Regions from separate parts of the Homo sapiens genome. Here all the other regions are linked to region 2. Evidence: fine-mapped expression QTL. A gene starts in region 2. Each other region holds a variant in brackets. All regions are shown on one strand. Distances are from middle to middle. Region 1 has its middle 6.6 kb from the start of SCGB2A2. Region 2 holds the start of ASRGL1 (asparaginase and isoaspartyl peptidase 1). Region 3 overlaps FADS3 (fatty acid desaturase 3). Region 4 has its middle 12 kb from the start of SCGB1D4. Region 5 overlaps RAB3IL1 (RAB3A interacting protein like 1). Region 6 has its middle 20 kb from the start of SCGB1A1.

What was found.
Region 1: its variant is fine-mapped to the expression of ASRGL1 in whole blood (INTERVAL, PIP 0.96).
Region 3: its variant is fine-mapped to the expression of ASRGL1 in spleen (GTEx, PIP 0.97).
Region 4: its variant is fine-mapped to the expression of ASRGL1 in breast (GTEx, PIP 0.95).
Region 5: its variant is fine-mapped to the expression of ASRGL1 in cerebellum (GTEx, PIP above 0.99).
Region 6: its variant is fine-mapped to the expression of ASRGL1 in whole blood (TOPMed, PIP above 0.99).

The regions. Positions count from the first base shown.
Region 1 is chr11:62,274,217-62,279,288 of GRCh38, forward strand. No RefSeq gene overlaps it. Among named protein-coding and RNA genes, the nearest start is that of SCGB2A2, 6.6 kb to the left of the region's middle. The variant C/A (reference allele first, on the strand shown) is at 2,857.
Region 2 is chr11:62,334,644-62,339,715 of GRCh38, forward strand. It overlaps ASRGL1 (asparaginase and isoaspartyl peptidase 1), which reads left to right and starts at 2,805. Exons shown (of 7, transcript NM_001083926.2): 1 at 2,805-2,931; 2 at 3,247-3,524. The coding sequence starts at 3,335. RefSeq lists an enhancer at 2,716-3,385.
Region 3 is chr11:61,881,818-61,886,889 of GRCh38, forward strand. The region is part of intron 1 of FADS3 (fatty acid desaturase 3); the gene reads right to left. Among named protein-coding and RNA genes, the nearest start is that of MIR6746, 6.1 kb to the left of the region's middle. The variant G/A (reference allele first, on the strand shown) is at 2,739.
Region 4 is chr11:62,308,311-62,313,382 of GRCh38, forward strand. No RefSeq gene overlaps it. Among named protein-coding and RNA genes, the nearest start is that of SCGB1D4, 12 kb to the left of the region's middle. The variant A/G (reference allele first, on the strand shown) is at 3,037.
Region 5 is chr11:61,892,722-61,897,793 of GRCh38, forward strand. It overlaps RAB3IL1 (RAB3A interacting protein like 1), which reads right to left. Exons shown (of 10, transcript NM_013401.4): 10 at 4,580-5,072. Among named protein-coding and RNA genes, the nearest start is that of FADS3, 3.7 kb to the left of the region's middle. The variant C/T (reference allele first, on the strand shown) is at 2,255.
Region 6 is chr11:62,396,737-62,401,808 of GRCh38, forward strand. It overlaps a transcript of ASRGL1 not described here. Among named protein-coding and RNA genes, the nearest start is that of SCGB1A1, 20 kb to the right of the region's middle. RefSeq lists enhancers at 1-350, 351-850, 1,518-2,162. The variant C/T (reference allele first, on the strand shown) is at 2,117.

The DNA.
Region 1 (5,072 bases), 60 kb before region 2:
TCAGGGGTATGTGTCTTCCGGCCGGCTCTCTTCCTGCTTCTGCTATCTTGCTGGTGCACCCCACTAGCACAAGTAGCCTTGTGCCTTGGGACTGAGCCTGAGAAGTGGGGAGCTCATCTCCTTAAGCTTTCAGGCCCTGGGGAGAATTTTACATTGCTGTCTATTTGGTTATGGAAAAAGGACGACTTTCTCAATAACCACTTCAGGTGTGACATGGGGTGGCATGGGCACCTTGGAAAAAGAAAAACTTAATTTTGGGGCTATTCTTGAGAGACAGGTTGGTATCCACCATGTCATTGTAGCAGGAGCATCATCTGGATTGTCTGGAAAGGTGTCTGTGCCTGCAAAACAGTTATGTTGAGAGGACAAGGAGGTGTCAACAGGGAGAGGCATGGCCTCATTTGCTGCTTCACGAATGAAAGACCATGTCTGGATTAAGAAGGGGAATAATTCCTGAGTGGCTCAGAGTCTGGTAAGGGTGGAGGCCCCAAGACAAAAGTTTGGCCATACATGATTTCAAAGGGACTATAGAAAGAGGGTGCTTTTGGTGTTGCGTGGAGTCTCATGAGGGTAAAAGGGAGATTTTTTGTCCACGACTGGGGGGTTTCTAGAAGCAGCTTGGTGAGTTGGGCTTTAAGGACAGAGTTCATTTTTTCAACTTTGCGTGAAGATTGAGGCCTGTAGGGTGTGTGGAGAACTTACTTTATTTTTAAAGATGTAGAGACACCTTGGGTGATTTGGCTGATGAAAGTGGGCCTGTTATCAGACTGGATGGATGTTGGGAGTCCAAAATGGGCAATTATATGCATGATGAGCATTTGCGTGATGATATTTGTACCTTCTGAAGTTATTGGGAATGCTCCTACCTACCTGGAGAAAGTACAGACAAAAACCAGAAGATAGTGGAGCAATTTATCAGGTGGCTTGTGGGTGAAGTCTACCGGCCAATCTTGCCCGGGTACCTGGCCTCAGGCTTGGTGGGTAGGAAAAGGCAGTGGCCAGAAAGAACCTTGGGGTGACACTGAGAGGCAGATACAGCAGGACTGGGTAATCTCTTGAACACAGCTGGAAAGGTGAGGAGAAGTGAGGATAGGGCAGAGAAGTTGCAGGAGAGGTTTGTAACTGACATGGAAATATTTGTGGAGGTTTGGAGGTGAGGAAGGCTTTGAGAGTGAGGGAGAGTGAAGCACCCTTCCTTGACATACCATGGTCATTGCTTTTGAAGGTTTGGGGCTTGGAAGTCCTCCTTTTCTTGTGAGGAGTAAAGAGAAGAGAACAAGGACAAGGACAGAAACTGGCCTTGCATGGGATGTAGGGCTACTTTTTTGGCTACCTGATCTGCTGGCTCATTTCCAGCCGATATAGGATTGTCTGGGGTTTGGTGGCCTCTGCAATGAATGATGGCAACTTTCTGTGGGAGCTTGGAAGCTTGAAGGAGCTTGCTGATGAGAGAGCCATTTATGACAGGAGTGCTTTTTGCAGTTAGGAAACCCCATTCTTTCCAGATGGATGAGTGTGAGCACTACGTGGAACACATAATGAGAATTTGAATGTATATTCATCTGTTGTCTGGTTGCTAGAGTGAGAGCTTAAGTGAGGGCGATGAGTTCAGCTTTTTCGGAGGTGGTGCCTAGGAGGAGCAGATTGGCTTCAACAGTGTAGGGGCTTGTCAGTGTTTTCCCATGTAGGGAAAAACTGAACATTCAGAGCACTGTTCAGAGGAAATCACTCCTGGACATTATTTGACAAGATATTATTTGAGGGACTATCTCCTGGGTAATTCCTCAATGGGATGAAAATTTTCAACATCCTGTAGGGTGGATGCTGAGGCACTGAGGCAGGGCTTAATGAAGAGGCCTGGAGACTGAAGACAGGAGTGGTACCTGGCAGAGACACCAGTCATCAATGGCTCTGGTCTCAGCACTGACTGTGTGGAGAGCTGTGGGAGGAGCCGGGCACCTACGTAGAGACCAGCCCAGGGCCCAACCTCAACGTCAGGGGCTGGATGTGGTGTCTAGAGACCACTGAGTGAGGTTGTGCGGGTCCAGGACTCCAAGCGGCTGGAGTTGCATCATCTGTGTTAGCAGTTTGAAAATACAGATCATACAAACCCTGTTCTGTGACCATAATTGAGTCCAATGAAAAATCAAGAGCCGAATGACAAGAAATTCGCCAATCACTGAAAATTAAACTCCCTGCTGCTAAATGATAATGAGTCATTAAATACTTATTGAAATTGTCGTTAGTGTCTGTGTCCAGCCCTGGGTTGTGAGGTATGGGCAAGCAGGGACAGTGGATAAACCCTTCTCTACTCCTGCCTCCTGCTGGGATGGTTGGGGACAATGCTCTTTTGCTTCCTAGAGGAATGTCAAATAATCCTGTTTGCCTCTCTTTTCTGGACACTTCAGGGGCCTTCTGAAGTATTCAAAAAGCTAAGTGCAAGGGAAGACAATTTTGAAACTGAAGTTTGATTTTGGGAAGGCTGTTAAATGTTCGAGGTTTAAAACACTTGATATTATAAAATAGAATTGCAGATTATTATAAGTTTTTTATGTTTCCAAAATCATGATTCAGAAATTTTAAAGAAGCAAAAACCTTTTATTGCCCTTTACAGATTTTGCCAAAGAGCAGATTAGTGTCTTAGGAAGACCTTGTTATGCTTTTATTTCAATGCTCAATTTACAGAAAAACCATAAAATAACCCATTTTTTAAATTTAGTCAATATTTTTACATAGAGAACCTCTTATGCAAAATTAATTTCCACAATTCTTCCACCACTTCTTTGAACCTTCAGATTTTTCCTATCTAATTTAAAACTATCAGCTGGGTGCAGTGGCTCACATCTGTGATCCCAG[C/A]ACTTTGGGAGGCCAAGGCGAGCAGATCACAAGGTCAGGAGATCAAGACCATCCTGGTCAACATGGTGAAACCCCATCTCTACTAAAAATACAAAAATTAGCTGGGTGTGGTGAAGCACACCTGTAATCCCAGGTACTCAGGAGGCTGAAGCAGGAGAATCGCTTGGACTCAGAAGGTGGAGATTGCAGTAAGCTGAGATTGCACCACTGCACTCCAGCCTGGCAACAGAGCAAGACTCCGTCTCAAAAAAAAAAAGAAACAAAAAAAAGAAAAACTATTCTTTAACCCTAGGCAACAGTTTACATTTCCACGCCTTCTTGTAATCTTTTACTAGAGAACACATTTTACTGTTTTTAAACACCTTGCATGAAAATCTATTTTCAGTAGTTTCAATTACATGATATAATAGTAACTCCTACAAATTGTTACTGTTAAGGTAAAATCTGGTAAGTTGCTTTAATTGTGTGCTAAGTGCAGCCAAGGTTTACCTTCTTAATTAAGGGTGTGGTTAGTTCCCTATGTCCCCAGGCCCTACCAATTTTGAAGCAATCAACACAGACAGTTCTCAAAACCCAAAAAGCAGTTTACAACCTGGGTTAGTTCCTAAATCAAGTTTTTTTCTGGCTTAATACTTGGCAGTTCTGAAATAGCTGCAATTTGTCCTAGTTGAAATATGGTAATGAGAATTATAAAGAGATTTTTAAAGGAGCTCAGTGGTTAAAAGTCAGCTTAATTAAAAGCTAACATCCTTTTAAAAACACACCTCAGCCCTCTCCCTCTCCCTCCCCCTCCCCCTCCCCCTCCCCCTCCCCCTCTCCCTCTCCCTCTCGCTCTCCGTCTCCGTCTCCCTCTCGCTCTCCGTCTCCCTCTCGCTCTCCCTCTCCCCACGGTCTCCCTCTCATGCGGAGCCGAAGCTGGACTGTACTGCTGCCATCTCGGCTCACTGCATCCTCCCTGCCTGATTCTCCTGCCTCAGTCTGCCGAGTGCCTGCGATTGCAGGCACGCGCCGCCACGCCTGACTGGTTTTGGTGGAGACAGGGTTTCGCTGTGTTGGCCGGGCCGGTCTCCAGCCCCTAACCGCGAGTGATCCGCCAACCTCGGCCTCCCGAGGTGCCGGGATTGCAGACGGAGTCTCGTTCACTCAGTGCTCAATGGTGCCCATGCTGGAGTGCAGTGGCGTGATCTCGGCTCACTACAACCTACACCTCCCAGCCGCCTGCCTTGGCCTCCCAAAGTGCCGAGATTGCAGCCTCTGCCCGGCCGCCACCCCGTCTGGGAAGTGAGGAGTGTCTCTGCCTGGCCGCCCATCGTCTGGGATGTGAGGAGCCCCTCTGCCTGGCTGCCCAGTCTGGAAAGTGAGGAGCGTCTCCGCCCGGCTGCCATCCCATCTAGGAAGTGAGGAGCACCTCTTCCCAGCCGCCATCACATCTAGGAAGTGAGGAGCGTCTCTGCCCGGCCGCCCATCGTCTGAGATGTGGGGAGCGCCTCTGCCCCGCCGCCCCATCTGGGATGTGAGGAGCGCCTCTGCCCGGCCGAGACCCCGTCTGGGAGGTGAGGAGCGTCTCTGCCCGGCCGCCCCGTCTGAGAAGTGAGGAGACCCTCTGCCTGGCAACCACCCCGTCTGAGAAGTGAGGAGCCCCTCCGCCCGGCAGCTGCCCCGTCTGAGAAGTGAGGAGCCTCTCCGCCCGGCAGCCACCCCATCTGGGAAGTGAGGAGCATCTCCGCCCAGCAGCCACCCCGTCCGGGAGGGAGGTGGGGGGGGGTCAGCCCCCCACCCGGCCAGCCGCCCCATCCGGGAGGGAGGTGGGGGGTCAGCCCCCCCGCCCGGCCAGCTGTGCCATCCGGGAGGGAGGTGGGGGGGTCAGCCCCCCGCCCGGCCAGCCGCCCCGTCCGGGAGGTGAGGGGCGCCTCTGCCCGGCCGCCCCTACTGGGAAGTGAGGAGCCCCTCAGCCCGGCCAGCCACCCCGTCCGGGAGGGAGATGGGGGGGTCAGCCCCCCCACCCGGCCAGCCGCCCCGTCCGGGAGGGAGGTGGGGGGGTCAGCCCCCCGCCTGGCCAGCCGCCCCGTCCGGGAGGGAGGTGGGGGGGTCAGCCCCCCGCCCGGCCAGCCGCCCTGTCCGGGAGGGAGGTGGGGGGGTCAGCCCTCCGCCCGGCCAGCCGCCCCGTCTGGGAGGTGAGGGGCGCCTCTGCCCGGCCGCCCCTACTGGGAAGTGAG
Region 2 (5,072 bases):
AAGAAAGAAAGGAAAGAAAGGGAAGGAAGGGAAGGAAAGGAAGGAAATGTTAGTTGCTTCTTTCTTTTTTTCTTCTCTTCCTCCCTCCCACCCCCATTTCTTCTTCGTCAATCTCTCTAATATGCCTCCTTCATTTCTGACCCAGAAATGCCCAGTCCCTGCCCAGTCCCTCCTTTTCTGGTCCCACCTCCTCTCCCCAACTCTGGCATTCCCTAACCCAACCCTCCTCCTCCTAGAACATCCAGAGCCACTGTAGTTAGAATCACTTCCTTGGGGCTCTAGTCAACCTCCCCAGTCACACAAATGGGTTACTCCTCCCTTCAAAAATCCCTCTAAAATGATAGTAAACAATCTTAAAAAGAATACTACCCACAAAGACAGGAAGAATGGGAGAGATGACAATGGCAGGTAAAAAAGGTCACTTTGGAAGATGAATAACAAATGGCAGATTAAAGGAAGTTGTAATCTACTTGAGAGGTGAATCCATTTGTTCTGGAGAACGCTTGAGAGACTCAGGGCTTAGACACACAGGAATCTCAAAGATGGGGAGGCAGGAGTGGCAGGTGTTCCCAGTTGTCTCTCCAATAGCCTGTCACCCTTCCTTCTTGCCAAGAGACCTTGATTTTATCCAGGGCCATGATGTACCCTGCTAAAATAAAAACTCAGACTCTCTTGCCACTAGGGGCAGCCCCCCAATCCAGTTCTGGCCAATAAAAGTCCACTTGGAGGACTTCTAGGAAAGCTAGAGAGCTTTCCTGAATTAAAGGAACAAAGGGGAGCTGGCAAAAGCCTTCTTCCCTTTGCCCTTCCCCATTCCTTCTGCCCCAATAGTGATCAAGGTGCCTAGGAGCACCATAAATGTGAAAGCCACATGCTGAAGGGAAGAGAAGGAGATGGGACATCTGTGTCACCTTGGAGCTGCTGCACCAGCCTGGGCAGCAACCACTAGATGTCTTGTTGTTGTTGTTGTTGTTGTTGTTGTTATTGTTGTTTTCAAATCAACAGTTATCTGGTTAAACCACTGTGGTCACGTTTCGTCAGGGACAGTTGAATACAATCCTTAATCCATAAAATGATTGTTGATGGAACATCGTCTACAGAGGAGTTAGCCAGATTCCTTCTCCTATCCCACAGAGCCGGACAAAAAGATGCTTCCTCTTTCCTCCTCAAAGACCAGAAGTTTATTTTCTAGAGAATTTATCTAAGAGACTTTGGATTGGGATGGGGAATACGAAGCCCATCAGAGAAGTAGATAAACGCATGAGGCTGAGATGGGAGGATCAAATGGAAACCAACATTCTACCTGCTTGGGCCACCAGCCACCTTCCCCAGCCTCAGCCAGATCACTGAATTCCAGATCAATCAGGAAAAACAGTAGAGATGGGGTTTGAGTTAGGGCTAGGCATAGGGTAGGGTTCAGGTTCCTATAAATAGCTGAAACCAAATGATGGTGAGCTGTATTATGATGACACAACTAGGCTCACGACCAGTTGAGACGTGCTAAAATAACCCTCTTCCAAGAGGTGAGTGTGGGAGACAGAATAACGGCCCTCAAAGGTGTCACATCCGAATCTCCACCTGTGAACACTCCTCACATGGCAAAAGGGACTTTGCAGATGAGAATAGAAATTGTAAGAAAGGGAGATTATCCTGGGTTATCTGGGTGGGCCCAATGTCATCCCAAGGGACTTCCTTTAAGAAGGAGGCAGGAGAGTCAGAGTCAGAAAAGAAAATCGTGATGATGGTGACAGAGAGAGAAGTGACGTAGCAGCAGAAACAGGCCAGAGGGAGAGAGAGTTAAAGATGCTAGGCTGTTGGCTTTGGCAATGGAGGATGAGGCCATGAGCCAAGGATACAGGCAGCTTGTAGAAGCAAGAAAAGACAGATTCTCTTCTGGAGCTTCCCGAAGGAACTCAACCCTGCAGACCCAGTTTGAATTTCTGACCACCAGAACTGTAAGATAATGTGTGTTGTTTGAAGCCAATAAATTTGTGGTAATCTCTAACAATAGGTCACTAGAAAGGGAATGACTGATCCTTAGTGGGGTGCCAGGGAGAAGGCTTTGCAGGAGGGGTTCATTTAAACTGGGCCTTAAGGCAGGAAACGAAGGTAAAACAGGAGTAAAGGGAATTCCCAAGAGTGGTAAAATATGTTATCAGTTGTGGGTAAACAAGAAGGGAAAGGACTCTCCTATCCACAGGAGATCAATCACAGTTTGCCTGGATCTGTCCCTGTTTATGCCCATTGTCCCAGTATAATTTTTTTTTCTTTTGATTCGGAGTTTCACTCTTGTTGCCCAGGCTGGAGTGCAATGGCGCGATTTCCACTCACCGCAACCTCCGCCTCCCAGGTTCAAACGATTCTCGTGCCTTAGCCTCCAGAGTAGCTGGGATTACAGGCATGCGCCACCACGCCCAGCTAATTTTGTGTTTTTAGTAGGGACAGGGTTTCTCCGTGTTGGTCAGGCTGGTCTCGAACTCCCGACCTCAGGTGATCCGTCCGCCTCGGCCTCTCAAAGTGCTGGGATTACAAGGCATGAGCCACTGCGCACAGCCTAGCGTTGCTTTTCAATCTGCAATTACAAAATCGTGGCATGCCACTTCACGCTTCTCGCCACCAACCCAACCACCCAGCCCCTAGCCTGGTCAGGAGCAGGAGGTTCCCCGCGTGCCACCAGGAAGCTCGGGCCGGCCAAGAGCGTAGACTCTTGAGAGGAGTGAGACAGGTGCGCGCCAGCCGGCCTTCGGGGCTTTATGGGAACTGGGCCGTGCGGCGGTCCCGCCCTCGTGCGCAGGCGCAGAACCGTTGTGACCAGAGCGGTTGCGGGCTGAGCGGTTTCGAGCCGGCGTCGGGGAGCGGCGGTACCGGGCGGCTGCGGGGCTGGCTCGACCCAGCTTGAGGTCTCGGCGTCCGCGTCCTGCGGTGCCCTGGGTAAGTCGGCGGCCCTCCCGGAGCAGCCGCCCGAGACGCGGGAGGGCGAATGAAATAAACGAAAATAGACATTTTCCCGAAGGCGAAATAGACATCCTCCTTCGGCGCCGGGGCTTGGAGGCGGGCGGCGGTGGGCGCGGGTTAACGTCCCCGGGGAAACTGAGACCCCCAGCAGGTCCGGGCCGGGGGCGGAGAGGAACGCGGGAGGGCGCCGGGCCCCTGGGCTTTTCGTACCAAGCTCGACCGAGCCGCCCCTACCCACCCCCAGCTGCGAACCCAGCCGTTCAGAACAGAGACTGGGCATTGTCCCCACAGGGTCTCCCGAGGACCTTGTACCCGCGCGGCTTCCTTGGGCTGGCTTTGGACGACGCTTTCGCCTTCCTGCTGCCTAGGATCCGCCGACATGAATCCCATCGTAGTGGTCCACGGCGGCGGAGCCGGTCCCATCTCCAAGGATCGGAAGGAGCGAGTGCACCAGGGCATGGTCAGAGCCGCCACCGTGGGCTACGGCATCCTCCGGGAGGGCGGGAGCGCCGTGGATGCCGTAGAGGGAGCTGTCGTCGCCCTGGAAGACGATCCCGAGTTCAACGCAGGTAAATGTGCCTTTCAGCTAGTAAATAATGTGAGTCAGGTCAAGCTCCTTCTTCAGAATAAATAGAACCTACATAGTGTTAGGGAATCTAATGAGCTTTGGGGTGAAACTAAGTATGTAAAAAAGAAACAATATTTAATTTTTCTACCTGTGCTGAAAAGAGTCAAACGCTAAAATATTTGTAGAGATTTATACTGAGGCAAATATGAGTGACCAATGGCCTCTGATACAGCTCTTGGGAAATCCTGAGAATGTGTGCTTCTGGAGAGACATAAGATGTCAATCAGTACATACAAGACATACATTGGTTCCATCTGGAGAGGTGAGACTACTGGGGGAGGGGGAGTGGTTTCCAGGTCATAGTTAAGATTCAAAGATTTTCTGATGAACAATTGATTTAAAGTTTTGTCCAAACACCTGGAATCCACAGAAGGGAATGTCTGGATTATATAAGGACTTGTGGCTGCAGATAGAATTAATAGAAGGCGGTTTAGCACGGTGGCTCACGCCTGTAATCCCAGCACTTTGGGAGGCCAAGGCGGGTGGATCACCTGAGGTCAGGAGTTCGAGACCAGCCTGGCTAACAGGTGAAAAGCCACCTCTACTAAAAATACAAAAGAAAAAAAAAAAAAGCCAGGCGTGGTGCTAGGAGCCTGTAACCCCAGCTACTCGGGAGGCCGAGGCAGGAGAATAGCTTGAACCTGAGAGGCAGAGGTTGCAGTGAGCCGAGATCACTCCAGCCTGGGCGACAGAGCGAGACTATCTCAAAAAAAAAAAAAAAAACTGAAAAAAGAAGGGAATGTCTGCATTAAGATAAGAGGTTGAGGAGACCAAGATTTCCCTTAGGCAGAGGAAGTCTCCAGGTAGCAGTCTATTGAGAGAATAAATTGTAAATGTTTCTTATCAGAGTTGATTCTCTCCTGAATCAGGAAAAAGGCCTAGAAAAGGAAGGGGATTCTCTTCAGAATGTAGATTTTCCCCACAAGAGATAGCTTTAGCTTTGCAGGACTATTTCAAGATATGGCGAAGAAACGTAATTTGGGGTAAAATACTTCACTTTCAGGGCTTGCTATCTGTCATGTGATGTCATACTAGAGTCCCGCTGGAATTTGGTATCTTATTGCTACAAAGTCTGCTTTGTCAGTCTTAAGATCTGTTTTAATGTTAGTGCTGGTCAGCTGGGCCTGAATTCCAAAAGGGAGGAGGGAATAATGAGGCATGTCCTACCTCCCCCGACAAGGTTCCAAAGTTTTCAGGTTAACTTTGGAGTGCAGAGTGTATTCCTTTGTGTTTCGCTTCTTTCACTCAGTCCACCCTTTTTTGGAATACTAATCATTATAGCTAATATGAGTATCTACCATGTATCAGGCAGTGGTCTAAGAAATTTGCTTGATTTATTGAATCTGAACATTAAATGAGTTGATCATGTAACTCTCTTAAGTTGGTTAACTTGTGTTAAACTAACTCAAGTTAACTCATAATGAACATTAAATGATTCACTTATGAGTTAATCACTTAAACTCAGTTGAGTTAAATGAGTTAGGTATAA
Region 3 (5,072 bases), 450 kb before region 2:
GCTTGGGGACTGGGGGGCTGGTAGGGTGCCCCTTCTGGAATAACCTGGGCTGACTTGGCTCACTCATTACAGAGGAGGGGGCTGTATAAGTGCAGATCTCACCCCCTCTGGACATGAGTCTTGAAGGAGGGGCAGCAAAACTGGTAGAAAAAAGGGCAGAGGGAAGGCTGGGGGTCCCCAGGAAGCTGTCTGGGCCCCCAGCTACCTGCAGAGCTGGGGCTGGTGTACAGGGGAGCTGGGAGGGAAGAAGACTCTTGGGGTTCTACTGACCCCACTGGGTGTTTTTTTTTTTTTTTTTTTTTTTTTTTTTTGAGATAGGGTCTTGCTGTATCGCCCAGGCTAGAGTGCAGTGGTGCAATCATGGCTCACTGCAGCCTCAACCTCCCGGGCTCAGGTGATCCTCCCACCTTAGCCTCTCTCGTAGCTGTTAGTACAGGTGTGCACCACCATGCCCAGCTAATTTTTTATTTTTATTTTTTGTAGAGATGAGGTTTGCCATGTTGCCCAGCTGGTCTTAAACTCCTGGGCTCAAGCAATCCACCCACCTCAGCCTCCCAAAGTGCTGGAATTACAGGAATGAGCCACCACGCCCAGCCCAGAAAAACACTGAAAAATTTTTTTGAGACAGGGCCTCACTCTGTCACCAGGCTGGAGTGCAGTGATGCAATCACAGCTCACTGCAGCCTTGAAATCCTGGTCGTAAGTGATCCTCCCACCTCAGCCTCCCCAGCAGCTAGGACTACAGGCACATGCCACCATGTCTCATTAACTTTTGAATTTTTTTGTAGAGTCAAGGTCTCACTATGTTGCCTAGGCATGTCTTAAATGCCTGACTTCAAGCGATCCTCCCACCTCAGCCTCCCAAAGTGTTGAGAGTACAGGTGTGAGCCACACCTGGCCTCTAATTTTTTTATTTATCTTTTATTTTTTGAGACAGAGTCTTGCTCTGTCGCCCAGACTGGGTTGCAGTGGCATGATCTCGGCTTACTGCAACCTCCACCTCCCAGGTTCAAGAGATTCTTGTGCCTTAGCCTACTGAGTAGGTGGGATTAGAGGTGCAAGCCACCACACCAGGCTAATTTTTGTATATTTCGTAGAGTCGGGGTTTCACCATATTGCCCAGGCTGGTGTTGAACTCCTGAGCTCAAGCAATCCTCCCGCCTTGGCCTCCCAAAGTGTTGGGATTACAGGCATAAGCCACCACGCCCAGCCAATTTTTTAAAAATTGTAGTAAAATATACATGAAATTTACCATTGTAAGCATTTTTAGGTGTCCAGCTCAGTGGTATTAAGTGCATGCACAGTGTTGTCCAACCATCACCATCATCCAGCTCCAGAACCTTTTCACCTTCCCCAACTGAAACTCTGTCCCCATTAAACACTAATTCTCCATTCTCTCCTCCCCCTGCCCCGGCAACCACCATGCTACCTTCTGTCCATACAGATCTGCCTCCTCCGGAAACCTCATCTGGGAGAAATCACATGTTTGTTCCTTTGCCTCTGGCTTGTTTCACTCAGCACAATGTCCTTAAGGTCCATCCATGTTGCAGCACGTGTCAGGATGTCCTACCTTTTTAAGGCTGAGCCAGCGTGATGGTGAGTCCCTCTTTCTCCTTTGAAACTCCCCAGACACACACGCACATGCAGACACACCCACCAGCCCACACCAGCAGGCATCACTCAGACACTCAGAAACATGCCCACAATCACGGCCCACATGAACACTCAGCCAAACACAGCCTTGCACACATGGTACGCAAAGATGCAGCTGGCACGCACAGACACACCCGGCGCAACGTGCAAGCTGTGGCTGCGGCCCCAGAATCTCCTCCCTCCCAGCCCTTCCCTCTATCACCCCATGTCAGTTCTGGGGCCACCTTATTGAGCTGAGGATCTTGGGTCCAGATTGGTCTCCTCGCCTCCTTTCCCGTTGGTCCTGATTCACCCAGGCCAGCCCTGTCGAGGCACTGACAGGGGAGGACAGAACCAAGCCTGCCCCAGGGCCTTCAAGCCAGATCTACCCCTTGCAATGATAAGGGGAAGTGTGAGCCCCCTCAGGGCTGTGTCAGAGAACCCCAAAGCCATTGACAGGGCTCCAGCTGGGGAAGGGACAGGTGGGGCTGTGACAGTTCCCTGGGAAGCAGGCTGGGCTCTCAGAGCTGGGTGGGCACCCTGGGGCTGTGCTTCTCATGCTATCAGGGAGTGCGAGTAGGGCAGGGGCCTGGACTCAGGCCGAAACCTGGAAGCAAACAGCCTTCTCTGGAACTGGCTGAGGTCATGTGACCTGGTCCTCTGTGGGCCTCTCCTTAAGGATGGGGGTGCCAGGCAGAAGCTAAGACTCAGAGAGGTTAAGCTACTTCTTCAAGGTCACACAGTTCCATTTGACCGAGGTTAGATCAGAGTCCAGGTCTCTTCTCACTCATAAGTGAGAGTTGAACAATGAGAACACATGGACACAGGGAAGGGAACATCACACACCGGGGCTTACTGGGCGGGTGAGGGGCAAGGGGAGGGAGAGCATTAGGACAAATGCCTAATGTATATGGAGCTTAAAACCTAGATGAGGGGTTGACGGGTGCAGCAAACCACCATGGCACATGTATACCTATGTAACAAACCTGCACATTCTGCACGTTTCCCGGAACTTAAAGTGAAGAAAACAAAAACAAAAGCGAAAAACTGTGCTTGTCGCCACTCCTGGAACAGAGGGGAAGCAGCAGTTCTCCTAGGTGGTGTGC[G/A]GGGGTCCTTGCCGTGAGGCCAGTCACTATCTCAAGAAGCCAAGGGCCCAGCTGCTGGGAGCCTGGGCTGGGGGGCAGGAAGGCGGTTCTTGGACCTCATCAGTGGAGCCTCAGGGAACTGTGGGAGGTCCCACCCTCACACACCCTAAGTGCACCCAGGAACATCCACCCAGGGGTACGTGCACAAAGCCCTGTCCCCCCAACCCCCACACGCACCCAAGCGAGTGGAAAGCGGCACTCGACGTCTCTCATCGGGTACCGGAGCAGAGCTGGGTGAAAGTGCTGGAATCAAAACGGCACCCCTAAACACAAGCTCCTGGAGGTAGCGACAGGCTCTGTTCACAGTGGCATCCTCAGAGGCCGGCACAGAGCAGCTGCTCAACAGCAGGTATGAACAAGTAGACAAGAGCCAACCCTCCACAGCCCCCAAAGCAGGGGCACGAACCATTTTGCTGGTGAGGAAATGAAGGCTCAGCGGGAAGGGACACCTGCCCAGGTCCCAGTTAGTAGTGGCAGAGCTGGGATTCGAACCCGGGCCCATCTTCTGTGATGTTCATGCTCTCTCAGGATACAGAGACAGCTCAGCCTGGCCTTGGTCCCTGGAAGCCTAGAGTGGCTCAGTTGGCCCCAAGATCCCACGCCCTGCCCAAGCCCCACCGTGAATCCCACACAGCAGCTGGTCGGGGGGGTGTCCCAGAGCCAGCCTGCCCAGGATGGAACCTGAGCTGCTATCCAGGAGCCAGGGAGCCCCAGACAAGACCACACCCATCTCTCATCAGTATTTCTCATCAGTAAACTGGGAACCACAAATCCCCATCTCACAAGGCTGCTGGGAGGATGCAGTCGGTGGCGCTAAAGCACTTAGAAGGGGCCTGGCGGTTGGCAAGAGCTCCACAGCCCAGCTCTTTCTGAGCCCTGCAGCCCTGATGAGCCTCCTCCTGAGAGTCCACTTAGAGGTAAGTGCCTGCAGGAGGGGCCTACAGGTGTCAGGGAAGAGAGTGGAGAAGCTGCTTCTCTGCCTGCCTGTTAAGTCCTGGCCAAGCCTGAGGCTGGGAGAGAGGAGGGGCTGGCAGCCTCCTTCCACCCCAGAGACACAGCAGGGCAGGGAGGGATTTTGGGTCACTCCCTAGGAGAATCAAGAATGTGCCAGATCAGTCAGGAAGGGGGTGAAGCAGGGAGTGTGGCAGGGCTGCTGAGGGCTCAGGTGGTCGGGGTCTGTCCTCGCTGCCTTCTCATGCCTTTGTAGGATGTTGGGGTGACAGGGCTATGCCTCAAAGGACACCCCCAGGACATTCCTGCCTCTCCCCTCTCCCAGGTGGGTGGGTACAGCAGGAGCGTGCCCAGCACACCATGCTCCGTCCCATCCTCTCCCTGGCGCCCGTCAGAGGAGGCCAGTGGGGAAGCACTATCAGTATCCCATTTTACAGATGAGGAAACTGAGGCCCCAAGAGGTCCCAAAGAAACACAGCTCTAAACATGGGACATCCAAATTTGGCCTGTGTAGCGGAGCCCAAGTCGAAGGCAGACACCCCCAAAAAGCTACCCCTGTCCCCCAGCACCCCTCAATGTCCTGGTGAAGGGTGGGCATATATGTGAGGGCTCCTGCAGCCAGGACGCTTGGCCTCACAAGTGTCCCTGACCCCACAGTAGCCCCAAAGCAGCTATACCCTCTGGCTCCTGGTCCTCTCTCCACCACTGACCTCTGGCTCCACTACTGGAGCCTGGCTGTTTCATCAGAAACCCGCAGGAAGAGACCGGGAGGGATGCCCAGGGGCAGTATCCTGCTGACGCCAGACAATCCCAACTCTTCCCACAAGGAAGGAGCAAGGCACTGCAGCCCCTCTGGGGAAGGGGCCTGGGTGGGCGGTGGCCTTGCAGAAAACGCCTGCGGGGAGCCCAGAGCAGTCACACTTCATGGGAGTGGCCATTAGGGGACTTTCAAGGCAGTCAATGTGGTAGGAGGGAGTGGAGTGGCTCTGGAGCCACCCCCCAACCAACTCCTGTGGCCTCAGATCTGCCTAATCCTAGTCCTGTCCCTCCCCAGCTCCCACCCAGACACAAACCCCACCCTCGTGGCCCGAGTACAAAGGCCCTACCCTTCAAGGGTCCTGAGAAGGTTCCATTACACCCCCCAGTTTCAAACTCAGTCTCCTCATCTACAAAATGGGCTAACAATAGGACTTACCTCATAAAGTTGTTAGGCGAATTCAATCAGTTACCACATCTAAACCCCTCAGAACAGTGCCTAGTCAATAACTGTTGGCTGCAATTACTATGAAGCAGCCTCTGCTGCAGCACTGGCCACTCCCTCCTCCAGCTCAGGCCAGGCTCAGA
Region 4 (5,072 bases), 26 kb before region 2:
ATGGGGTATTTATCCTCTCAAGTGCTTATCCTTTGTGTTACAAACAATCCAATTATACTATTTTAGTTTTTTTGTTTGTTTGTTTGTTTGTTTGTTTTGAGATGGAGTCTCGCTCTGTCACCCAGGCTGGAGTGCAGTGGCGCCATCTCGGCTCACTGCAAGCTCCATCTCCTGGGTTCACACCATTCTCGTCCCTCAGCCTCCCCAGTAGCTGGGACTACAGGCGCCTGCCACCACGCCCGGCTAATTTTTTGTATTTTTAGTAGAGATGGGGTTTCACTGTGTTAGCCAGGATGGTGTCAATCTCCTGACCTCATGATCCACCTGCCTCAGCCTCCCAAAGTGCTGGGATTACAGGCGTGAGCCACCGCGCCCAGCCTATTTTAGTTATTTTTAAGTTTGGTTAAATTATTATTGACTATGGTCACCCTGTGTGCTATCAAGTAGTAGGTCTTATTCATTCTTTCTATTGTTTTGTACCCATTAACCATCCTCACTTCCCCCCACCCACTCCTCTACTACCATTCCTTCTACTCTCTTATCTCCATTAGTTCAATTGTTTTGATTTTAAATCCCACAAACAAGTGACAACATGAAATATTTGTCTTTTTGTGCCTGGTTTATTTTACTTAATGTAACGATATCCAATTTCATCTATGTTGTTGCAAATGACAGGATCTCATCTTTTTAATGGTTAAATAGTATCCATTGTGTATATGTACCACATTTTCTTTACCCATTCTTCTGTTGATGAACACTTAGGTTGCTTCCAAATCTTGGGTATTGTGAACAGTGCTGCAACAAACATGGGAGTGCAGATATCTTTTCAATATAACAATTCCTTTCTTTTGGGTATATACTTAGAAGTGGGATTGCTGAATCATATAGTAGCTCTATTTTTAGTTTTTTGAGGAACCATCAAACTCTTCTCCATAATAGTTGTGCTAATTTACACTCATGCCTACAGTGTATGAGGGTCTCCTTTTCTCCACATCCCCTCCAGCATTTGTTATTGTCTGTCTTCTAGATATAAGCCATTTTAACTGGGATGAGATGATATCTCATTGCAGCTTTTGATTTGCATTTCTCTGATGATCAGTGGTGTTGAGCACCTTTCTCTCACCTCATTTTGTTTTCTGTTTCCTATACTTTTTTCTAACTTTCTTGCTTACATTAGAGTTTAATTCTGCCACTTTACATTTTCTACTTCCAGCACTTTTTAAATGTTCCTACTATGGACTAATTTCATTCTGCTGGTTCGAAAGTTATGCATTGTATTTTTGCTGTTCTGGTGATTGTCCCTTACTTACTGACCTATATATAGGTATAATTTTTCCATCAATCCTTTAACTTATTAGTACCTGTGTTGTTCCCCAAATAAAATAAGTGCACTAGCTCAGTCTCACCTCCCTTCAATCACTCCTACGTTATACCTCCATCCTCAACATTTCACGACATCTAAAATTAATCCCCGGTCATCTCAGTTCACTTTCTCTTTTATTAGTTCTTGTTTTCTTGGAAAACAATAAACTTTACTAAAATATTTGCTTTCCCACACCTCTCATATCAGCATTCTGGTTTTATTTCTCTTCTTACTGAAGTTCTTTCTTTAAGATTCTGTCCACAGAAAGGTTTTGTGTGACAAGTCGTATTAGGCTGTGTATTAGTCCATTTTCACACTGCTGTGAAGAAATACCTGAGACTGGGTAATTTATAAAGGAAAGAGGTTTAATTGACTTACAGTTCTGCAGGCTGCACAGGAAGCTGGTGGCATCTGCTTCGAGGTTTCAGGGAGCTTTTAGACGTGGCGGAAGCCAAAGTGGGAACAGGCATCTTACATGGCAAGAGCAGGACCAAGTTGGGGGGAGGGGCCACACACTTTTAAACGACTAGATCTCAGGAGAACTCACTATTGTGACAACAGCACCAAGGGGAAATGACGTTAAACCATGAGAAACCACCCCTATGATCCAATCACCTCCTACCAGGCCCCACCTTCAGCCCTGGGGATTACATTTCAATATGAGATTTGGGTTGGGACACAGATCCAAACCGCATCAGGCTACGTGTATCAGTTAGAAATATGTTTGGCTACAAATAACACCCAAATGACTGACATAAACAAGATAGTGGTTTCTTTTTTGTTTTTGTTTTGTTTTGTTTTGTTTTGTTTTGTTTTGTTTGAGACGGAGTTTTGCCCTTGTTGCCCAGGCTGGAGTCCAATCGTGCGATCTCGGCTCACTGCAACCTCCACCTCCAGGGTTCAAGCCATTCTCCTGCCTCAGCCTCCAGAGTAGCTGGTATTGCAGGCACATGCCACCATGGCTGGCTAACTTTGTATTTTTAATAGAGATGGGGTTTCACCATGTTGGCCAGGCTGGTCTCAAACTCCCAACCTCAGGTGATCCACTTGCTTCGGCCTCCCAAAGTGCTGGGATTTCAGGCGTGAGCCACCGCGCCCAGCCGGTTTCTCTTCTTTTATTTAAAAGAAATCTGGGAGTAGGCAGTGTAAAGTTGGTACACTGACCCCATAATAATCAATTTCCCAGGCTCCAGGCTCTTTTTTCTGTGTCTGAATTTTACCCTACTCAGTTTATGGTTTCAATACTCAAGGTGGCCTCATATTCTAAGAATGCCAGAGCTCCAATCATCATGTCCATGTTCTGGGAAGGGACAAGGAGAAAGAGAGGGAGAGCAAGGGGCACATTTCCCATCCAGATGCGCTGCCTGGGCCGGGTGGGTGAGGGCTGCCAGCAGAGCAGAAGTTGTCCTGGAGAGTTACACATTCACCACACAGTAGCTCATCTGAGTCTCTGGCCGAGTCCTGGCCACCGGCTGCAGTAGCTTTTTCCCCGTGAAAGTTAATCTTCAGGAAATGGGCATCCCACTCTGTGTGTGGCAATGAAGTCCAGGGCTTTCAGGTTGAAGTTCCTCTGCCTCTGTTACCCACAAACATGAGGCAGCCCCAGAGACATTCAACAGGACCGGCCCGCGGTGCTCTCTGCCGCTGCGCCACAGCACCACCTGCTGGTCAGG[A/G]GACTGCTCGGCATCCCTGCCGTGGCTGGAACTCCTCCGGTCAAGATCAAGTGGAGCCTCTCCTGCGGGGCTGGGCGTGGTTGCTCACACCTGTAATCCCAGCACTTTAGGAAGCCGAGGCGGGCAGATCAACTGAAGTCAGGAGTTCGAGACCAACCAGGTCAACATGGTGAACACTCCGTCTCTACTAAAAATACAAAAATTAGCCGGGCGTGGTGGCAGGTGCCTGTAATCCCAGCTACTTGGAAGGCTGAGGCAAGAGAATCGCTTGAACCCGGGAGGCAGAAGTTACAGTGAGCCAAGATCGCACCATCGCACTCCAACCTGGGGGACAAGAGCGAGACTTCGTATCAAAAAAAAAAAAAAAAAAAAAAAAAAAAGGACATTACAAGGAAGTGCCGCAGCGGGCTGTGTGCTCTGCTCTGAGGAAGTGCCACAGCGCGCTGGGTCCTCTGCTCCGGCTGGTACTGTAGAAGGAGGCATGTAGCCCTTGATAGCATTTTCGGGGCAGGGTAATTCCCCATTTTATGCTCAATCGCAAGACCTTAATTCTTTTCTTTTCGTTTCATTTCTTTTCTTTTCTTTTTTTGTAGATAGAGTCTCATTCTGTCATCCCTGCTGGAGTGCAGTGGCACAATCACAACTCACTGCAGCCTCAACCTCACCGGGCTCAGGTGATTCTCCCACCTCAGCCTTCCAAGTAGCTGGGACAACAGGCGTGTGCCACCACACCTGGCTAATTTTTGTATTTTTTGTAGAGACGGGGTCTCATCATGTTGCCCAGCCTCATCTCAAACTCCTGGCTCAAGCAATCCACCCACTTCGGACTCCCAGAGTGCTGGGATTACACACACGAGCCACCACATCCAGCCTGGCTGTTAAGTCTTAATTCAGGGCAACTAATTCTTTCCAATCCCTACACTCTACCTTCCAGGCCAGCCCAGAATAAGACTAGCACCTCCCACCTCATGAACCCAGAACTACCCTTCTTGCCTCCTCAGTAACCAGCCCCCCACCCCAGAATGAAATCATTTATCATTTAAGCCCTCAAAATACATAGAGTCTTATCATAGTCTTCTCCTCAGATGCACGGGGCCTCCTTCCCTACTTCTGTGTTTCCAAGGATGGCTACTGTGATGGAGGTCTTGCATTGGTACCCACCCCACCTATCATCATAATTTATAATTCTCTATCTTGCTCCAGGACCTGGTGGGCTAACCTGCGTGTTCTACAAAGACAGACCCCTTTGCCCTCTGGATTCCAATTGGATTTGGCCAATGAGAAGCACTGGCAAGAGATAAGGGAGAGAGCCTGGGCCCGATGGCTCACACCTGTAATACCAACACTTTGGGAGGCCAACGCAGGCGGATCACCTGAGGTCCAGGAGTTTGAGACCAGCCTGACCAACATGGCAAAACCTAGTCTCTACTAAAAATACAAAAATTAGCCTGGGTGGTGGGTGTGCCTGTAATGTCAGCTACTTGGGAGGCCGAGGCAGGGAGAATTGCTTGAACCCAGGAGACAGAGGTTGCGGTGAGCCAAGATCGTGCCACTGTACTCCAGCCTGGGCAACAGAGCATTACTCTGTCTCAAAAAAGAGAGAGAGAGACAGACAGGCAGGCAGACAGAAAGAGAGAGAGAGATGAGGGAGAGAGGAGAAAGAGATCAAGTCTTTATTCCCCCACCTCCCCCCTTGTAAGGTGGCAGCATCCCTTGACCAAAGGCCACAGCTCATATCAAGCAGCATCCTCTGCAGAGCTCTTTCTGTCCCCAGGTTCTGGTAACTGCTTATTTCCCTTATATCTTCAGGGCTAGGAGTGGTCACAGAGCCCTGTCGCTCTGGTCCTAGGGTACTGTTCTATCCCTTGTGCTTCCTACCTCCTGCCCACACCTTTGTAAAGAGTCCCCCTGTGTATTTCTCCTCGATCTGAGTGTGCTCTCTCCTGCCAGGAGCCTAATACAGTTACCTTCGGTGGCAGTGGTTTCAAGGTGGTTTTCTATACCAGGATGCGCTGCAAAAACCTAGAGCTTTTCTT
Region 5 (5,072 bases), 440 kb before region 2:
AATCTTCCATCAGAACCACCTGAAAGGCTTCCATCAGAACCACCCAGGAGGGTTATTCGGTGGGTCTGGTGTGGAGGCAGAGACTTACATGGCCAGTTCACAGGTGATGCTGACCGGCTGGTTGGGGAAATGCACTTAGAAAACCCTAAGTATATTTCTCTGATATGCTAATATTTTGTCTTGGTCTAAAGAGGACCAGTATCCCCAGAAGGGCAGAGGGGGCGAGTTCTCCCTGGTACCAGGAGCTCCTGCCTTTGCTTGTCAGGACATCCAGCAAGGCCCATGATGTCATCAGGCACCGGGGCTGCCTGGGCCCTCTCCACTGAGGCACCCACTGACCATATCCTGGAACCCCAACCTGGCACATGTGTGTGGGGGTGCAAGAGCATGGCTGGTGGCCCTGGCCCAAGGGGGCTGCAGGCACCCCTACCCCGTACCATGTTCACACAGCACAGGAATGGAGAAGGCAGATTCTTGAAGGAATGCATCCCCTGCACCAAAATCCACTGAAGGCATGGACCTGGCCCTGGCCCCACCTTCAGCAGCCCTGAGTGGTCAGATGTGGCCATCCTAGGGGCTTCTTCCTTGGAGCCAGCCCTGGCCTGGTCTCAGCCCCTGTGTGTGAGGTGGTTGGGGGTTGTGATAGGTTAGAACCTCCACTTTCCCCAGCTGCCCCCAGAAGAGATGGGGAAGATGAAGGGGGGGCCACAGAATCATGCAAGAGCCGTGAGTGAGGGCAGGGATCACAGCCCTATTGGCCAAGTCCTCCTCGAAGGGATCACTGTGGAGGCCAGGCGGAGCTCCTCAGAATGCTCCTCAGGAAAGAGGGGCTGCACACAAATGGGCAACACACACACGAAAAGGTGCTCAGCATTGCTAATCATCAGAGAGCTGCAAATGAAACCACAATGAAATACTGTCTCACACTTGTTAGGAGGGCTCCTATAAAAAAGAAAAAGGCCTGGAATCCCACCACTTTGGGAGGCCGAGGCAGGAGGATTGCTTGAGCCCTGGAGTTCAAGACCAGCCTCGGCAACATAGCAGGAACCCCGTCTTTAATAAATAAATACATAAATGAAAAAATCATGCCAGGCATGGTGGTTCACGCCTGTAATCCCAGCACTTTGGGAGGATCTCTTGAGCCTAGGGGTTCGAGACCAGCCTGGGCAACATGACAAAACCCTATTTCTACAAAAAAAAAAAAAAAAAAACTAGCAGGGCATGGTGGTGCGTGCGCCTGTAGTCCCAGCTACTTAGGAGGCTGAGGTAGGAGGATCGCTTGAGCCTGGGAAGCAGAGGTTGTAGTGCCCCAAGATCATGCCATTGTACTCCAGCCTGGGCTACAGAGGGAGACCTGGTCTCAAAAAATCAAATCACACGTGTTGGCAATGATGCAGAACCCTTGTGCATTGTGGGTAAGAATGTGAAGTGCTATAGCCAACTATAGAAAAGAGTATGAAAATGGCTTTAAAATGCCTATGATTCAGCAATTCCATTTCTGGGCATATACCCAAAAGAACCGAAAGCAGAGTCTTGAGGAGATATTTGTACATCTATTTTCTTAGCAGCATTATTCACAATGGCCAAGAGGTCATTGTGAGGCAGCACAACTGTCCATCCACAGACACTGGATAAACAAAACGTGGTCAGGCCAGGCGCGGTGGCTCACACCTGTAATCCCAGCACTTTGGGAGGCTGAGGCGGGCGGATCACCTGAGATCAGGAGTTTGAGACCATCATGGCCAACATGGAGAAACCCTGTCTCTACTAAAAATACAAAAATTAGCCAGGCATGGTGGCGCATGCCTGTAATCCCAGCTACTCAGGAGGCTGAGGCAGGAGAAAGGCTTGAACCCAGGAGGTGGAGGTTGCGGTGAGCCGAGATCGCACCATTGCACTCCAGCCTGGAGTAATAATTAATTATAATATAATAAAATTAAAAATAAAAAATAAAACGTGGTCTATGCATACAATGGAATATTATTCAGTCTTAAAAAGGAAGGAAATCCTGTCACATGCTACAACAGATGGACACTGAGGACATGAAGTGAAAGAAGCCAGTAATGAGAGGACAAATACTGCATCATCCACTTAAATGAGGGCCCTCGTGCAGTGAAATTCATAGAAAGTAGAATGGGGGTTGCCTGGGGCTGGGAGGAGGTGGAAATAGAGGGTTGATTAATGGGTACAGAGTCTCAGTTTTGTGAAATGAAAATGTTCTGGAGATGTTTCGGAACACTGTAAATGGACTTAG[C/T]ACTACTGAACTATACACTTAAAAATGGTTAAGGGAGGGCCAGGCACAGTGGCTCACACCTGTAATCCCAGCACTGTGGGAGGCTGAGGCGGGCGGATCACTTGAGGTCAGGAGTTCAAGACCAGCCTGGCCAACATGGTAAAACCCCGTCTCTACTGAAAAAAAAAAAAAAATTCACACACAAAAAATTAGCTGGGCATAGGGGCTCATGCCTGTAGACCCAGCTACTTGAGAGGCTGGGGCAGGAGAATTGCTTCAACCCGGGAGGCGGAGATTGCAGTAAGCCTAGATTGCGCCACCGCACTCCAGCCTGGGTGACAGAGTGAGACTCCGTCTCAAAACAAAACAAAACAAAAACAACAATTAAAAAAAAAGAGTTAAGGTAGTACAAGTTATGGGTTTTTTACCGTAATAAAATGAAAAAGGCAAGGAGGCTGCGAAAGCCATTTAGTCCTATATTTCCAACTCACAGATGAGGAAACTGAAGCCCAGAGAGGAGCGACTTTGCCCAGGTGCACAGCCCCGGCAGGAGTTCCATCAGGACAGTCTTGGCAGACTGGAAAGCATCCTGCAGGAGTGAAGCACGCCAGTGCGCAGCTGGTCTCGGCTCAGCGCCTCCACCCTCAGAGGCCAGAGTCGTTGCTAGGTTTGAAGAGGGGGCCAAAGAGGGTTAAAATGTTCACATGTGCCAGGGGTACTCAGAGAGGCCCAAGTGGGTTATCTAGAAAATCCATTTAAGAGGAACAACTCCCTCGTGGCTGATGTCGGCTAACCCTCCCCAGCCACCTTTAAGCACATTGCAGGTGTCTAGGAAAGGGAATCCAGGATGCTGGTTCATACTGTGGGCTCCAGGGCTGGCCTCATGATTCCTATCCCGGGGCCATCATTTCCTCTGTGGCACTTCTGTGTGCCTCATTCTACTCATCTGCAAAATGGGAGAATAGTACTCTATAAGGTTGCTGTGAGGATGAAATGAATTAGATCATTTAAAGGGTTTAGAATCATGCCTGGCACAGTCAGTGCTCAGCTATTATCTCTCGTTGGGAGATACTGAGAGTGTATGTCCATCCTCCAGGCATTTCAGTTCTCTGTTTATGACCCCACTTGGGGTCTGACAGCAGGCTATGCCATTGCAGGGGCAGGCAGCGCGGGTCTGGGGTATGGGACCCTCTGCCTGGCCCCTGGAGTGTGGTCTGGTGTCTCCTAGGTCTTCAGTGTTGCTGGGCCAGGAGCACAGAAGCTGGGGGTAGGGTGGACAGCTCCAGGGCCCAGACCTCCAACTTCCTTTGGCCCCCCAGCTGACCCAGGACTGACAGAGAGGAGAGAAAGCGACTGCCACGCAAGAGAGGCTGTGGGGATCACAGCAGTGAACACAGCCTCTTGCGCCCTTTTCTGACATCCTCCTTTGCCTGCCTGCTTTCCTCTCTTCCATCTGATGCCCTGTGCGTGTTCCTGGTATGTTTTTGATTGCCAGTCTTCCCCCTGGACATTCTCAGCTCAAGCACAGGTGTCCCCAGCATGGGTGGAGGGCTTCCTGTGGTCCTGGCCAGTCCACAGCTAGCCTGACCTACCAGCTGAGTGGCACCAAGGCCTCAGGCCAATACGGAAGTCCCCACAAGGTGTCACCAGCCCAGTAGATACTGACCCGACTCAGAAGCTGCTATGCTCTCCACCACCCCAAGAAGGCATCTATTGGCCTGGGCCCACATCCCTACAGGTGGGGAGGGGCTCAGCCACCACAAGACACCTTCCCAGCCCCACTCTGGGTCCTCAGAGGTCCTGGCCACCCCCACCTCTTCCAACTGTGACTGCTGCCCCTTGCTGAGAGCTCGTCTAAGACCTGGGCTTCCATGGTCCCCGCCTGTGCTTCCAGCAGACATCACCAATCAATCCTGCCACTGTCCCACTGAGCAACAGGCAGCCTCGATGCTTTGCCTCTGAGCTGCAGGCTTCTGTGAGACTGGAGGTAACCATTGCTGGATGCAAGGAGACCCAGGGGAGGACCTGGCCAAGGTGCCACAGTGAGGCAGTGGGAGAGCCAGCCTTGGTGCCGTTCTTCCCAACAGCAGGCCACCAGCCACGGGGAGAGGGAGGCCTGGCTCATCCCCCAGTAACCCACAGCCCTCTGAATACTAAGGGAGGACTCAAATAGTCCTCCCCACAGCAAGTAAGTGGTGATGGCGGAGGTGGGGTGGCTTCAGGATTTGGGTTTAATCCCAAGCACGAGGGCGGGCAGGGAAAGGATTTGGTTTCATTCCTTCAGATGCCCAAGCCTTGGCCAGAGCCCCAGGGTGCAGGAGTGAGGGCGCGTGGCCACCCAGCCTGTACCAACAAAGCCTGCCTTTATTAAATAGAGATCGCGTTACATTCCATCCAAAGAAGGAAATCCGGACGTGGTGAGGGATGCGTCCAGGTGGGAGCTCCGAACGCTGGTCCTGAGTGGGCTCTGATGGGTGGGAGGGCCCAGGTCCTGCCTGCCCACCCAGGCCCCACATGCCAGGGCGCGTGTCTGCATGGCCACCCACAGCTGAAAACAGGCGTGGGTGATCTGAAGCCCTGTCTGTGTTCTACTGTGGCAGAAAGTGCCCCAGTCCTTCCAGCGGTTTTGGGAGCAGGGCCTCCAGGAGCACAGGGCTGAGACGGGGTGGGAGGGAAGGTGACAAGGGAGGCCTTTATGAAGGGGGAGGGAGGAAGGGGGAAAGGAAGGGAGGAAGCGGGGGAGGGGTCTTGACTCATCTTAACAAGGCTTTGGGGCAATTCTGTGCTATGGAGGCCCTGCCAGCCCCTCCTAGTAGTCCAATAGGGAGGCCACCGGGAA
Region 6 (5,072 bases), 62 kb after region 2:
TGGACTCTGCTGATAGGGGAAACCAGCCTGGGGTGATTTTTTTTTTTTTAATCACTGATCATCTCAAGAGTTAACTTTTTTGCTATGCAATTATCAGCACTTTCTGGATCATGTGCAGAACTCAGATAAGTGTTAGAGTTCTTATCCACAGCAGGCAGCCAAGGAGAAAAGAGGTTGAGTCTTCCTGTCCTATCTCTGTAATACTGAGGCTCCTCTCAGCAGCCACCGGCCTCATGCCTGCCCGCCTTGGCCCTGGATTGTCACCTTGCAGGGCAGCAGTTTGTTATTAAACTTTTTTGTTTGTTTTTTTTGAGACGGAGTCTCACTCTGTTACCCAGGCTGGAGTGCAGTGGCGCGATCTTGGCTCACTGCAACCTCCGTCTCCTGGGTTCAAGCGATTCTCCTGCCTCAGCCTCCCGAGTGGCTGGGACCACAGGCACACGCCACCACGCCCAGCTAATTTTTGTATTTTTAGTAGAGATGGAGTTTCACCATGTTGATCAGGATAGTCTTGATTTCTTGACCTCGTGATCCTCCCACCTCGGCCTCCCAAAGTGCTGGGATTACAGGCGTGAGCCACCGTGCCCGGCCAAGAATAATGAAAAATGTAAAGCACATGTGAGAAAAAAACAACAAAAAATGGGGGACGCTGGGCATGGTGGCTCATGCTTGTAATCCCAGCACTTTGGGAGGCTGAAGCGGGCAGATCACCTGAGGTCAGGGTTCGAGACCAGTCTGACCAACATGGAGAAACCCCGTCTCTACTAAAAATACAAAATTAGCCGGGCATGGTGATGCATGCCTGTAATCGCAGCTACTGGAGAGGCTGAGGCAGGAGAATCACTTGAACCCGGAAGGTGGAGACTGTGGTGAGCCAAGATCACGCCATTGCACTCCAGCCTGGACAACAAGAATCAAACTCCGTCTCAAAAAAAAAAAAAAAAAACCACGGGAAAAATTTCCTATCAGCCAGTGAATATCACTATTAAAATCTTACTGTATATTCTTGCAGATCTTTTTCTGGGTGTGTATATGCATAATTATTTTTTCAAAAGTGAGACCATGCCATGTATGTTTCAGTTAACACTCTCCACCATTGCTTGCCAAGAAATGTTCACCTTACCTAATATTTGGTCAATATTCAAATTTCCCCAGTTTTCTCAAAAATTGTCTTTTTAGCAGAATTGTTCAAATCCAGCACCTTTCTTACTGGCACTGCTTGCTGGGTAGTTAGGGCCCCGGGCCCCTCGGCGTCGCATCTTCTGCTTGTCAGGCTGCCCCTCGTTGAGTGAGGGAAGCACCTGGCTGAACACCACCACAGGCGCTGGGGGCCAGGCCGACCATTTCAAACAGAAATGTCGACACCCTGCCACCGCAGGAGCCATGCAGCGCTGGCCTGTGGGCTGGGGAGGGTTTGGAAAGGGAAATATGGGTTGTGCCAAAGCACAAGGCCCCACCCAGAAGTTTGGCAAAGGGTGACTTGGAGTGAGAAGAGCAGGTGGGGAGCAAGTCCACCCTGCGCCACCACCAGGAAAGGACCTGCCCCCACCCTTCCTCAGCGGCCTCTTCCCAGGTCACTTCCCCTCATACAAAAAGCGTGTGTGCTCCCTTCCCAGCTCCCCTCACCTCAGCCTTTCCCACACAGCTAGGAGCCAGAGCTACCCCACGTGCTTGTTGGCCAAAGGGCCACTTTCAGAAGTGTTTACAAATTACCCCAGGTGGAGGCCACTCACACCAAATCCAGGAACATTTACCTCGGGCATAGAACCACATTCCCTGGCTACCCAGTGAAGATCCCCGGGGGCTCGAACCCCCAAATTCTCCCAACTTTCTTTGCAGACACCAAGTATTTCATCTTTTTTAAAAGTAAGAAACACCAAGGCCAGTTCCCCTCCTCCTCCCATCTGCTCCCCGCCCCTCCCCTGGGCCCACTCCCGCTAGCGGCGGCGGCTCATTGCAGGCCGGCATGTCTCCCCGGTGACCTCACCCCAGATCTGGCCTTTCTCTGTCAGGCCTCACAATCTTCCGGGCCATCTTTGTTGTCTTATCTCTGGCTTTGGCACAAATATCACACCCTGGATGCCTCATGACTAAAAGTCCATCACTTTCCCCAAGC[C/T]CTTTCCCTGTCTTCCCTAGAAATTCCAATATATGGCCAGGCGCAGTGACTCATGCCTGTAATCTCAGTTCTTTGGGAGGCCAAGACAGGCAGATGACCTGAGGTTAGGAGTTGAAGACCAACCTGGCCAACATGGTGAAACCCCGTGTCTACTAAAAATACAGAATTAGCTGGACGTGGTGGTGCAAAACCCCGTGTCTACTAAAATACAAAATTAACTGGGCGTGGTGGCACATGCCTGTAGTCCCAGCTACTCAGGAGACTGAGGCAGGAGAATTGCTTGAACCCGGGAGGCAGAGGTTGAAGTGAGCCAGGATCATGCCACTGCACTCCAGCCTGGGCGACAAGAACAAAACTCCAACTCAAAAAAAAAGAACTTCCAACATATTTGTCCACTGCTCTCAAGCACAAAGGGTCAGGACTCAGGGCAAGGCACCCTGCAGAACTGAGAATTCTCCCCACACTCGCCTCCTTAGCATTCCCAGCCCAGAGTTCTCACTTGGACTCGTGTAGAGAACAGGCAGCCAGTTCGTGTGATTGCAGATCTTCTGCTGTTGTTCTGCCGGGTGCCCCACCGGTGTGTCTGCACCAGCTCCTTCAGACAGGAAGCCTCCTTCGTGCCAGCTCTACAGTGGCCTCCCTGGCAAGGGGCTTCATTTTATTTGAGAGAAAGGGTACCAACACTGCTCCTGTCTCTAACCACCATGGCTACGGCCCTCCTGCCCCCTCCCCAACTCAGCCAGCCCCTGGCCAGGGTCTGCCTGCAGCGGGCTCAGATGGGGAAGGCATGAGTGTCCTGCTGGTGTGAGCAAGATGTTCCAGGCACCTCTAGGACCCAGCGGGCAGCACTGCCCTGACCTTCCTGGGGTCAGCTCCCAGGATGGGGTACAGTTGGCCCCTGGAGAGCTACCTGTGAGGGCTAGGGCACAAGCAGCATCAGGACTAAGCTGCAGGCCATTTGGTGCCACCCTGGCCCTGCCTGGGCTCTGAGACCCCATACCACACACAGCCTGGCTTTTGAGCCCATCTCAGCATCGAGGCTGCCCGTGGCGGCCACTAGGGTGGCAGCTGGGCCTGTGCTCAAGGATGAAGACCCAAGAATAAGGAAATCCCACCTCCTTCCCTGAACTCTCCACCCACACCAGTCCATCACAGCCCCTCCCAGAAGCGCTATCCCACCCATCCTCCAGAATGAGGTCACGCAGGGGGCTCCAGGGATTCCTCCTGCTGCCTGGATCCAGTCTAAACCCCTTGGCCGACTTTCAAGGCCCCATAGGCCAGCCCCTCCTGGCTGTAGGCCGGGTCCCCCACTGCCCCCCAGGATATGAGGGGCTCCCCAGGCCTTTGCACACCCAATTCCCTCTCCAGAAATGCCTTTCCTCCCTCAAAGGTCCTCACAGGGGGAACAGTAGTAACCTCTCTGAGAGGGTTGTTATGAGGATTGATTAACAACTGGAAAGTTCTCAGAAGTGTGCCTGCCCCTTCATAAGCCGTCGGTAAATGTTAGCTATTATTTTATTAACCATACCAACCAGAGTGAGCCGTTCCTTTTCTGAGCCCTGGCCCTCCTCATGGTCACCAGCCAGCAGCTTCTGAAATGCACCTCTGTTCCATGGACCCAAAGTTGCTTTAACCATTTTGGACACATGGACCAGCAGGGGCGCGGCTATTTCTGTGCAAGGCTTGGGCACTGGGCAGAACCCCAACCCTCCATGCTATTAACACAGAGGAGAACCCCAGCTTCATATTTTATGTTTTATGAAACACGTTTGCATCTATTTCTACTTTGTGGAGTAGCCAGGGCAGAAATCATCATTGCCATTTTCCAATCGGGGCCCCTGACACTCAGTGCTGTGGAGTGCCTTACCCGCGTCACACAGCAGGTAAGTGGCTGAGGCAGGCTTCGAGTTCAACTCTGCTTGATCCCAGGCCCAGGGCTTCTTCCTCAGCACCAAGCTGGGTCACAACCAGTTAAGTGCATCTCCCTCCTTCTGAAAAGTAGCTCAGATGCCAGAGGAATTAGAGACGGCCGCACAATGAAAACCAGACGCCCTGCCCCTCGTCTCTGGACCAGCTCCCAGGAAAGGGAGGACAGCTGGCTGATATGTGGCCTCTGCGCCCCGCCCTGCCCATGAGCTCAGCTCTGGCAGAAAGAGCTCCTCACTAGGGAAGGCCTGGTGAGCCCCTCGGCCTGGGAAAGCCTCTCCACAGAGCCAGGGCCAGACCACAGGGCAGCCGAACTCCAGAGGTCAGAACAAGGAGTGCCCAAGGCCAACCGCATTGCCATTAACCCTCTGTAACTTTCCCAGTCCTGCAAACTAGGTGCTGTGCCTGTTTTTCAGATGAGAAAACCGAGGTTTGGAGAAATGCGATTTTCACGCTAGCAAATGAGGATGCCAGGATGTGAGCCCGTATCATTGCAGCTGCACCTTCAGGCCAGTTCTGGGAAGCTCATAGTTGGGGGCTGGGGGAGTGGCTGTCCCTCTGTAGCTGCCTTGAGAACAGAGACCACCTCTGTCTTGCTCATAGCCATTCTCCGGCACCATGTGCAATAAATATCTGTGAAATGAAAGAATGAATCCCTAGATGCGTCCTTCACTTGTCCTGAGGAAGGCGGGATTACAGGTGCTTCAGCCCTGGCTGCGAAGGTGCCTGGTTGAGGCAAGCCCACCCTGAGGCCTGGGAAACACAGCCAGCCCTGCCCACCACCCCTCCTAACCCCACAGCCTACAGGGCAACTCCATCTGCACCAGTGACTTCACAGGGTTGGGGTCCCCTTGCCCTCTCTCCCTCCCCTGCCTTTGAGGACAAGAGCTCAGCTCCCAATCACTGGTGAAGCTCTTACGGGAGGGTCCCCAGCAGGTCAGGGCCTGCAGGAAGAGAGAGGGCAGGGCTCCATGAGAACAAGAGTTGGGGTGGAGGGAGCAAATGTGGGGGTGGTGAGAAGCTGAGAACA